Regions from separate parts of the Homo sapiens genome. Here region 1 is linked to region 2. The links come from fine-mapping of genetic effects on gene expression. A gene starts in region 2. The other region holds a variant in brackets. All regions are shown on one strand. Distances are between the middles of the regions. Region 1 overlaps SLC9A3 (solute carrier family 9 member A3). Region 2 holds the start of EXOC3 (exocyst complex component 3).

Region 1 (5,366 bases), 46 kb before region 2:
CGGCCGACCACATCGCGTCCTTCACACTGACGCCCACCGTCTTCTTCTTCTACCTGCTGCCCCCCATCGTGCTGGACGCCGGCTACTTCATGCCCAACCGCCTCTTCTTCGGCAACCTGGGGACCATCCTGTTGTACGCCGTCGTGGGTACCGTGTGGAACGCGGCCACCACCGGGCTGTCCCTCTACGGCGTCTTCCTCAGTGGGCTCATGGGTGAGTCTGCGCCACTGTTGCCCCGGCCGGGATCAGGGTGGGGTCCGGGAGGGGCGGCGCTGCCTCATCTCAGAAAGGTCGGGGTGCCGCACCCTGGCCTCCAGGCGGTAAGTGTCAGGTGAGAAACGTGGCTGGCAGCCCCGTAGGCCCTCGTGACCAAGGCCAGTCCCCTGCGCGTCCCCAGGTCCCAGCACGTGTTCTGCTTGGGGAGGAGTTCCCATCTCGGCAGCTCGGCTTGGGGGCTGCAGGTGGCCAGGGGCTGCCGCTCTTCCTCCGGCACTGGGCAGAGGTAGGGGTCCGTCCACACTCGCCGGCCACCAGGTCCCAGGGAGAGGAGGAGGACTGCAGAGCCTGGTGTATCGGGCACCGTCCCTCCCAGCCTGTGTGCCGGAGCCGCTCGGCCACCGCTGCAGCCACAGCCGGAGCCAGAACTGCTGCGCGGTTTTGGTCTTGGATGCTTCATCTCTCGGGCACTGCCTCCCGCCCCGGACCCAGACCACGCGTGGCTGGCGCCTCTCAACATGCCAGGTGCGGTGCAGCCCTGATGCCCGCCGCTGCTGCCGGGGATGCTACAGCTTTGACCAGGTGGGTCCAGGGACCTCAGGCAGAGCCTAGCTTTGACCAGCTGGGCCCCACGGCTGAGCGCAGGCCTCCGGCACCTGCCGCCCTCACCGGTCTGAGAACTCAGCCTCAAACAAATCCACCAGCTGAACCAGACTCACAAGAATTGGCGATTTTCCGTCTGGTTCAAGAGAGAGCACGGCCCGGCCTCTCCATGGGAATCAAGGGGCTGAAACCTGAGACCAAGGAGACGCATGGAGAAAGAGGAGCTCCCGGGTTGGGGCCGCCTCACCCAGCACGTGGTTCCTTGGCGCCTTCTCACCCCTCCCTGTAGTCCCTGCCGTCCAGCATCACCCACCAGGTGCAGCCCAGGGAAAGCTGCCGAGGGCACAGACAGGCTCATGGATGGCAGGCCCGTCACGTGGGCGATGCCATAGGTGGTCAGGACACACCTCGGATGGGGCAGCCGCCCTAGCCACCGCACCCAAGGGAAAGCCTCAGGGGTTGTAGCAGAGACTCCTGGACCCGCGGCCCCTCGAGGCTCACACCTACCTTGCCAGATGGCCCCTCGCCCATGAGATCCCAGCTTCCTCCCAGCTGTGTCGAGTGTGGGATGGAGTAGCCTGTGATCAGTCTGGCCGTCAGGGCCGCTCCTTTGAGAGCCGGGCACACTCCGTGGCTCTGTGGCCACGTCACAATGGTCCCCGCCTAGCATTGGCCAGAGACACTGCCGGATTTCCCTTGCACGAAGCAGAATGTCCTCGGTGCAACTGGCCGAGCCTGGAGGACGTCCTTGCTGCACCTGCACCATGAAGCCCTGGAGGACTCCCCACACCAGGACGTCACCCCTGGCCCTCCCCTGCCCCTCGCCACGCTGCACTCCACCCCTGCCCCTCGCCACGCTGGACTCTACCGTCCTCCAACAACGCTCCTCATGAGAAACACGTGTCCCAGGTATCGCTGTGCCCCCTGGGGCAGGCCGCTCCCCAGGTGACACGGATGCTGGAGGCCTGCGCTCAGCCTTGGGGCCCAGCTGGTCAAAGCTGGGTGCTGCCTGAGGTTCTGGAACAGAGATGCCCATGGCCGGCAGGTCCATCCCATTCCTGGGAGTCCAAGAGAGCTGGGAGGCTGCAACTGATCTCTGCAGACCAGAGGCCAAGCCCTGTGGAGCGTCTCAAGGCCAAACGTGCCCCATGGGAAAGGGTCGACATGGCAGTGCTGGCCCGGGGGCTGTCCGGGCAGTGTGGGGACAGGCCCTGCGAGAGCTTCAGGCATCAGAGGCCCTTGCACAGGCAAAGCACGTGGTGGAGAAAGGCCTGGAACATGCGGTCTGGTGGCATGAGCCCTCCTGGCACGGCCGTGGGCAACTGTCCAGACGGGAAGGCTGCCGGCCGGGGAGTCTGAACGCGGCCGACCCCAGGACATCCATGGGGGCCATCACTGCCCTGGGGGCGGCCGTGCCAGGAGGCCGCGTTTAAAGATGACCTTGAAGGGGATTCGTGTCCTGAGGCCTGAGTTTGGAAGAGGAGAAGGCTTGTGTGGTTCCCGTTCCAACATGGAACTTTAACTCCCTGAACGCTGGTTCTTCTGGCATCTGTCACTTCCTCGGGGTGTTGTGACACTGGCCAGAGGCTGCTGGGGCTTAGGAGCTCACAGCAAACTCGGGGTTTAGTCACCGCAGAGATGACCCTGATCTGTCCCCTCCCAGGCGCCAGCACAGAAACCCCTGGCCAGGCTGCTCTCTGCTGTCTCCTGGGGCCCGTCCGGCTCCAGGGACAAACCCCTCCTCAGCCCGAGCCTCAGCCCAGAGGGGTGGTGGGCTCCGCTCCAGCCCAGCAGAGAGGCAGCAGCTGTGCGGGGGGACTCGTCGGGGGCCTCCCCCTCCCTGGGTGGTCTCTCCCACACCCTCACGGCCCTGGCGTCTCCTGGTCCCTGGACCCTCACGGCCGGGAAGGCAGCAAGGAGGCCCAGTGTCCTCTGAGCCCTGCGGCCGTGAGAGAGGGCAGACTCTCGGGGCCACGTGGCCACACTCAGTTCCCTGAGGGTCCCCTGGAGCCTGGCACCCCCACGTGGCCTCCTCGAGGCCTGAACCCTGGGTTGAATGGCAAAGACTTGTGAAGGATAAGGCTGCATTTCAGTAAAACCTCCCCAGCGAGGGGCACCAGAGCCCACAGGCAGATGCGGGGAGGGAAGCCGGCCGGGAGCTAGGGACCACATGGACCCACGTCTTCCGGGCCCCCTTGCTCCCACCGCAGCCCTGCTCATCCCCACAATCTGCCCCCACACCCCCAACGGCCCTCCCACCTGCCCCTCCCTGGCCGCGCCCCTGGGTGCTGTGTGTCCCGGCTCCGGGCCCGTCCTGGGTCAGCCCCACTTGCTTCTCCTGGGCTGGGACGCCACTCCAGGC[G/A]ATGGGCCCCCATCCCTCCCCAGCATGCGGTGCCCCTGCACCCACCTGCCTCCGTTCACCCAAAGATGAAGGAGAGGGCCAGGGCCAGGGTCAGTCTGTCTGTCTGTCTTGCTCAGATGGGGTGGCCCCCTCGGAAGACAGCAGCCTTCCCTGGAGGGGGCTGGGGGTCTGTGGGAGGGACGCAGGAAGCTGACCCAGCTCCCCACGCCACCGGCGCCAGCCAGACGGGCTCCGAACCCCGACCCGTAGGCGAGCGCCTCCCCAGGGCCCTCCTCCTCGGGTGGCAGGCCCTGCAGCTGCCCCGCGGCCCGGCTTGTCTTCCAGGCGACCTGCAGATTGGGCTGCTGGACTTCCTCCTGTTTGGCAGCCTCATGGCGGCTGTGGACCCGGTGGCCGTCCTGGCCGTGTTTGAGGAGGTCCATGTCAACGAGGTCCTGTTCATCATCGTCTTCGGGGAGTCGCTGCTGAACGACGCAGTCACCGTGGTGAGCAACGGAGCCACCGCTCCAGAGCGGGCGAGCCGTGGGAGGCCTGGGCCCCGTCTCACCCCCCATCGGTCAGTCAGCAAAGGAGGGCGTGAAACCCTGTCCTCAAACTCCCCTCCCGGGGGCGTCCCGTCCCTCCACCTCCTTCCTCCCAGCTCAGAACGACTGGCAGCTTTCGCGAGGCTTCTTTGTATCTTCCACAGTTCCCAGGCCCTGCCCGCCCACTCCATAGCTTCAGGGTTAATGATGGCGCTGTTGAAATCCCGCCCTCCTGGTCCCCAGAGCGTCTGTGACTTTGGACCCACAGTTACTGCCACCCATTCCTGAGTTCCTAAAAAATACATGAGTGGCCGGGTGCGGTGGCTCACGCCTGTAATCCCAGCACTTTGGGAGGCCGAGGCAGGTGGATCACCTGAGGTCAGCAGTTCGAGACCAGCCTGGCCAACATGGTGAAACCCCGTCTCTACTAAAAATACAAAAATTAGCCAGGGGTGGTGGCACGCGCCTGTAATCCCAGCTACTGGGGAGGCTGAGACAGGAGAATCACCTGAAACCAGGAGGCAGAGGTTGCAATGAGCCGAGATCGTGCCATCGCACTCCAGCCTGGGTGACAGAGTGAGACTCCATCTCAAATAAAATAAATACGTGAATAGCAAACAACAAAATCCCATAGGAACCACGTAATCTGCCAGGGCCGCCATGACAAAGTACCGCAGGTGCAGTGCCTTGAACGACGGTGGGTGTCAGTGTGGTGGGTGTCAGTGTGGTGGGTGTCAGTGCGGTGGGTGTCAGTGCGGTCTGGATCACGGTGTCAGTGTGGTGGGTGTCAGTGCGGTGGGTGTCAGTGTGGTGGGTGTCAGTGCGGTCTGGATCACGGTGTCAGTGTGGTGGGTGTCAGTGCGGTGGGTGTCAGTGTGGTGGGTGTCAGTGCGGTCTGGATCACGGTGTCAGTGTGGTGGGTGTCAGTGCGGTGGGTGTCAGTGTGGTGGGTGTCAGTGCGGTCTGGATCACGGTGTCAGTGTGGTGGGTGTCAGTGCGGTGGGTGTCAGTGTGGTGGGTGTCAGTGCGGTCTGGATCACGGTGTCAGTGTGGTGGGTGTCAGTGCGGTGGGTGTCAGTGTGGTGGGTGTCAGTGCGGTCTGGATCACGGTGTCAGTGTGGTGGGTGTCAGTGCGGTGGGTGTCAGTGTGGTGGGTGTCAGTGCGGTCTGGATCACGGTGTCAGTGTGGTGGGTGTCAGTGCGGTGGGTGTCAGTGTGGTGGGTGTCAGTGCGGTGGGTGTCAGTGTGGTGGGTGTCAGTGCGGTCTGGATCACGGTGTCAGTGCGGTGGGTGTCAGTGCGGTCTGGATCACGGTGTCAGTGTGGTGGGTGTCAGTGCGGTGGGTGTCAGTGTGGTGGGTGTCAGTGCGGTCTGGATCACGGTGTCAGTGCGGTGGGTGTCAGTGCGGTCTGGATCACGGTGTCAGTGTGGTGGGCTCCTGCGGGACCCCGGTCCTGGACTTGCAGACGGTGCCTTCCCGTGTCCTCACGTGGCCGTCCCTGCGTGAATGTGCCCGAGTCGCCTCCTCTCACAGGGACACGGGTCCTATTGGATCAGGGTCCACCCCGGTGACCTGACTGTGCCATACTCCCCTTTTTCACGCTCACATGCCCAGGTCCTGGGGACTTTAACATGGGAATTTCGGGGGCACAATTTGGCCC
Region 2 (5,366 bases):
CTGGTGGAATCCTCACACTGTTCATGCTAGGGGTGTTCTCTGTGCACTGCAGGAGTTGTTAGGACGGTAGAAATGTTAGGTACAAAACCTCCCCCAAACTATCAGGTGATCACAGTGGAGCTACAAGCAGAGCCTCTGAGATCATTAATCCAGGAAACCTCAAAGAAAGCTGAACTAGGATGAGGAACTCCTTGATAAGATAAACAAACCTTCGTAACACAAACATGCAGAAGTTATACCTTTAAGGGGAGAGCAGGGGCGTTTCACAGGCATGAGAGACATGGACATTGCGAAGATTCTAGATGTGGGTCCCAGACCACCCAGCATGTAGATGTCAGCCTCAAAGGCACATCTCTCCCCAAGACAGGGCTGGTTTCTCATTTCGGGAGCTTTCCCCCAGCACCTTGGCCAGGCCTGTGGGCAGCTGCACCAGGACCCTCAGTGAAGACAAATACAGCGTGGACAACTCCCCCGACCAGGTACCACAGCTGGAGGCCCAGCACAAGCCCCACAATTCCCACCCTATAAAAGTGACAATAGTCAGCCAGGCCCGGTGGCTCACGCCTGTAATCCCAGCACTTTGGCAGGCCGAGGCGGGTGGATCACGAGGTCAGGAGATCGAGACCATCCTGGCTAACATGGTGAAACCCTGTATCTACTAAAAATACACACAAAAAAATTAGCTGGGCATGTTGGTGGGTGCCTGTAGTCCCAGCTACTCGGGAGGCTGAGGCAGGAGACTGGCGTGAACCCCGGAGGCGGAGCTTGCAGTCAGCCGAGATCGCGCCACTGCACTCCAGCCTGGGCGACAGAGCGAGACTCCGTCTCAAAAAAAAAAAAAAGAAAAAAAAAGAAAAAGTCATTATTGTCTTGGGTATCCAAAACCCCATTTCCCCCTTTTTTAACTGTCCTAGAAAACATCATGCTTCCCTCCTTTATGCAGGCCCCGTGCAGACCACAGGTGCTCAGATGCCAGGCAAGCCTGCCTTCCATGCTCCCTCCACCATCGTCCTCCTCGGGGAGCTAACACAGCTGCTTGGTGAGCATCAGTCAATGAGGGAATCCGATACACCTGTTCCCCTTGACTTCAGCTGTCTGATTTTCATCTTCATGAATATTAAAAAGATTCACCTTCTCCTGGAATTTTTCATTCTCCATGCCCACATGCTTTCAGACACCTCTCTTCTCCTTTTTCATCTGGACCTACATTGCAACCTTTCCTTTCTCTTTATTTTCTGATTATGAAATTTGGCATACCAACGTAGAAAATCTGGACAGGACAAAAATACAAAGATGCCAGAGGCAACTCCCCTTAAATCCCATCATCTATGGGCAACTCCTCTTAAATCTTGCTACCCAGGGGCAACTTCCCTTAAATCTCACAATCCAGGGACAACTTCCCGTAAATCCCACCACTCAGGGGTAACCCCCGCTATATCCCACCACTCAGGGGCAACTCCCCTTAAATCCCGCCACCCAGGGACAACTCCCCTTAAATCCCGACACTCAGGGGCAACTCCCTCCAACAGGGCTTGTTTCCTTCCAGTTTTTTCCCTTTGAGTTTCTTTTAAAGCTAAGATTCCACTGCTTATATGACTTTGTAGGTGCACACTTTTGTTTTCTTATTTTGTTTGGACATTATCATCAGCATTTCCATTGACATTAAAGCCTGTATGATTTTGATTATAGGGCTGGATAATAACCCAAGAAGTGGACCCCCAGCCGCTCTGCTGGGGCACGCGGTGAGGTGGCTGCGCCCATCTTAAGGCTGGAGTGAAGTCTGTCACGCTGTGGGTGGAAGCCAAGGCAATGTGAGTGGAGAGCTGTGAAGCAGGGCTCGCCTTGGAGTCAGAATAAAGCTACTCATGTGGAAAAGGGGAAAATCTGGAGTTAAAAAACGCACCGCAGAGGCTTCCATCCCAGCCTGAAGACTAAAGATTTTGGGTCACAGAAGCCAAAGAGGAACTCAGAGACCATAAACAGAGACCCAGGTCCAGCCCCTACCAGGGCCTTTCTGACTGCCTTCCCCTGGCGCTGGCTCCGCTGTGAGCCTCTCCGCCGAGCGGGGGGACACCCTACTGCGGGGAACATCAGCACCCACGGAGACACCTGCGCCAGGGAGACACCTCTGCCGGGCAGACACCTCTGCCAGGAGGGACCCTTTACCGGGGGGACGCCTGCGCCGAGGGGAACACCTGTGCTGGGAGGCACCTCACGGAGGGGACACTCCGCTGGAGGACACCTGCACCTTGGAGGACACCTGCACCTTGAAAGCTTCCTAAAGGCCAGGAAGGACGCTTGTGCCCAGAAGGACACCTGCTCCGACGAGGGACACCTGGTCCGAGGGGGGACACCTGTGCCAGGAAGGACAACTGCGCCTGGGGGGGGACACCGTCAAGAGGACACCTGCACCAGGAAGTACACTTGTGCCTGGGAGGGACACCTGTGCTTGAGGGGACACTTGCACCTTGGAGAACTCCTGCGCCGAGGGGACACCTGCGCCAGGAAGGACACTTGTGCCTGGAGGGACATCTGCCCCAAGGAGGGACACCTGCTCCGAGGGGGGACACCTGTGCCAGGAAGGACACCAGCGCCTGGGGCGTGGGGGAAGACACTGTTAAGGGGACACCTGCACCAGGAAGGACCTTGTGCCTGTGGGGACACATGTGCCAAGGGGACACCTACGCCTGGGGGGGACACATGTGCCGGGGAGGACACCTGCGCCGAGGACACTCGCACGAGCGGGATACTCCACGGGGTCCGGAACGGCCTCCCCGCCCTCCAGGTCCCGGTCCGGCCTCCCCCTACGCGCCCCCGCGGAAGCCAGAGACAGGGAGAGCAAGGATGAAAGACGGCGACCACCTCCCAAGGACCCGCCGGCCGTCAGGACCTGCCACCGACTCACCCTCTACGGCTACGCCGCCGCCGCCGCCGCCGCCGCCGCCGCCGCCGCCGCCGCCGCCGCCCCCGCCGCCCCCTCCGCCTTCGCTGCCTCCGCCTCCGGGGTCCCGGCCGGAAGTGGACAGCGCGCGGGCACTTCCGCTTCCGGCAACGGCGCCGGAAGCACGGGTCCGGGCCCTCCCGCGGGGCGGGTACTCGTCTCCCGGCCGAGCGACTTCAGCTCGGGGACCTGCCCCATGGCCGCTCCCCAGCAGGACAGGGAAACCGCCGAGGTGGGGGGCTTCTTGTCCGTCCCAGCCCCCCCAACTCAGGCCCTCTCGCTGCCCCTGGCGACCACCGCGTGCGCCCTTCCCCAGGGCGGGCGCAGTCCTGGACGCCTCCGCCGAGCGTGACTGCGTGCATTTTCTCTCCTTTCCCTTCCCAACCTGCGGAGAGAAGACAGCCCCAGAGCCGCTGTCTCCATCCTCTGCTGATGCCTGCTGTCTTTATGTTGGCCTCGTCGTCCGCACTGCAGTGTGGCAGGGGCGTCCCTCGTTTCCCGCGGACTGAGGTGGGCGCCGGGCATTCAGTAAACGAAGAAACCAAAGCGGAGAAGGTTGGGAATCAAACGTCTGTCATACCTGCCACCAGCAGACAAGCGGCTTTGGGTACCTCCTGGACCCAAAGACGAACTCAGCCCCTCCAGGAGCGCAGTCATTGGCACCCTCGTGGGAACAATGCCAGTGGGATGGGTGGCCACCGGATGTTTCCGGGGCCCCTCAGAGGCCCAGCAGCGCAGGTCTTGGAGAATGAATGTGGGTCACTGGGCCGCGCTGCAGAGGGCCGGTCCTGAGTCGCTTCCTGGAGGAGAGGCCCATGGCCAGCACTTGGCTTCGCCTGGAGGAAGAAGCACGTGCTAAACCACGAGCGTTCAGGGTTTGTCTGTTTGATAAAAGATGCTGGCTTTGACACACCAACTGACAAAGTCTTTCATAGGTTGGAGCTGCTAGGTTGTGCCCCTGCCCCTCCTGAAAATTAGCCACACGAAAGGAAGGGTCTGGAAGGTGGCAGGGAAGCCAGCAGAGACCAGGGAAGTGGCAGCAGCATGGGGCAGGGGCACACAGGAAGGAGATGGAGCTTGCGGGAGCCCCCACTGCCACTCCGACAGGGAGCCCTGCCCCGTGCCCTGCTGATGTTGACACTGACCCCGGCTCTATTATTTCAGTTTTTCCTTGTAATTTCTGAAAATCTAGCAACAAGTTGAGCAATGAAAAAAAGTAAAAAAGTTAAAATTGTGTTAGAAATTATGACTGTAAAGAAATTTTGAAACTAATGAAGAAAAAATTGCCAAAATTGCCAAAGCTTTTAGGACTCTTAAAAATATAGTAACATTGAGTATTATGAACTAAAGACTCATACTATTATATCAGTGTCTGGTAGTGAATTTGGATGGAGGACTGTCTAGTAACTTCTTAACAAAACATTGATTAGAAGTCTTTCTTGGCGGGGCGCCGTGGCTCACGCCTGTAATCCCAGCACTTTGGGAGGCGAGGCAGGTAGATCATGAGGTCAGGAGATCGAGACCATCCTGGCTAACATGGTGAAACCCCGTCTCTACTAAAAAAAATACAAAAAAACTAGGCAGGTGTGGTGGTGGGCCCCTGGAGTCCCAGCTACTCGGGAGGCTGAGGCAGGAGAATGGCGTGAACCCGGGAGGCGGAGCTTGCAGTGAGCCAAGATCGCGCCACTGTACTCCAGCCTGGGCAACAGAGCGAGGCTCCGTCTCAAAAAAAAAAAAAAAAAAAAAAAAAAAAAAAAGGTATTTATTGGCTGGGCGCAGTGGCTCCTAACTGTAATCCCAGCACTTTGGGAGGCTGAGATGGGCAGACCCCTTGAGCCCAGGAGTTTGAGACCAGCCTGGGCAACATGGTCTTTTTGGTAGGAACCCCATCTCTACCAAAAAAAACCCCACAAAAATTAGCCAGGCATGGTGGTGCATGCCTGTAATCTCAGCTCCCTGGGAGGCTGAGGCAGGAGAATGGCTTCAACCCGGGAGGAGGAGGTTGCAGTGAACTGAGATGGCACCACTACACTCCAGCCTGGGTGACAGAGGGAGAATCTGTCTCAAAAAAAAAAGTTTCTTGACTTCTGTTTTTGGCAGACCATGTTCTGCGAACACCCAGGAGCACTGCTGAGTGCAAGCATCATGTCGATTGCACAAGTGGATTCACGAACAGGCAAGGACGTGACCAGGGACAAATGTGGGAAGGGGAGAGGACGTGAATCAGAAGCAGAGATGCTTGCCGTCCTACAGCAGGCAGGTGGGTGGGTAGGGTGCGAGTTCTGCGGCCCAGGGGTTGGGTTTTACACTGAAGCAGGACAGATGATGAAGCTAAGGCTCCCAGCAGGTGGGAGGTGGACGGCGACTCCCATGTGAAGCACAGATGTGCAAGGGATGCATCCTCAGTGAAAGCGTGGACTAGGAA

What was found. PIP is the estimated chance that this variant, and not a neighbour inherited with it, causes the effect.
Region 1: its variant is the best candidate, but not a certain one, in a credible set for the expression of EXOC3 in lymphoblastoid cells (GEUVADIS, PIP 0.66).

The regions. Positions count from the first base shown.
Region 1 is chr5:486,616-491,981 of GRCh38, reverse strand. SLC9A3 (solute carrier family 9 member A3) reads left to right here. Exons shown (of 17, transcript NM_004174.4): 2 at 1-213; 3 at 3,506-3,666. Among named protein-coding and RNA genes, the nearest start is that of SLC9A3-AS1, 16 kb to the right of the region's middle. The variant G/A (reference allele first, on the strand shown) is at 3,182.
Region 2 is chr5:440,830-446,195 of GRCh38, reverse strand. It overlaps EXOC3 (exocyst complex component 3), which reads right to left and starts at 3,020. Exons shown (of 13, transcript NM_007277.5): 1 at 2,906-3,020; 2 at 1-46. It overlaps EXOC3-AS1 (EXOC3 antisense RNA 1), which reads left to right and starts at 3,036. Exons shown (of 1, transcript NR_126522.1): 1 at 3,036-4,361. RefSeq lists enhancers at 2,356-2,445, 2,496-2,625, 3,396-3,505, 3,526-3,575, 5,159-5,218 and 1 more and a silencer at 2,926-3,315.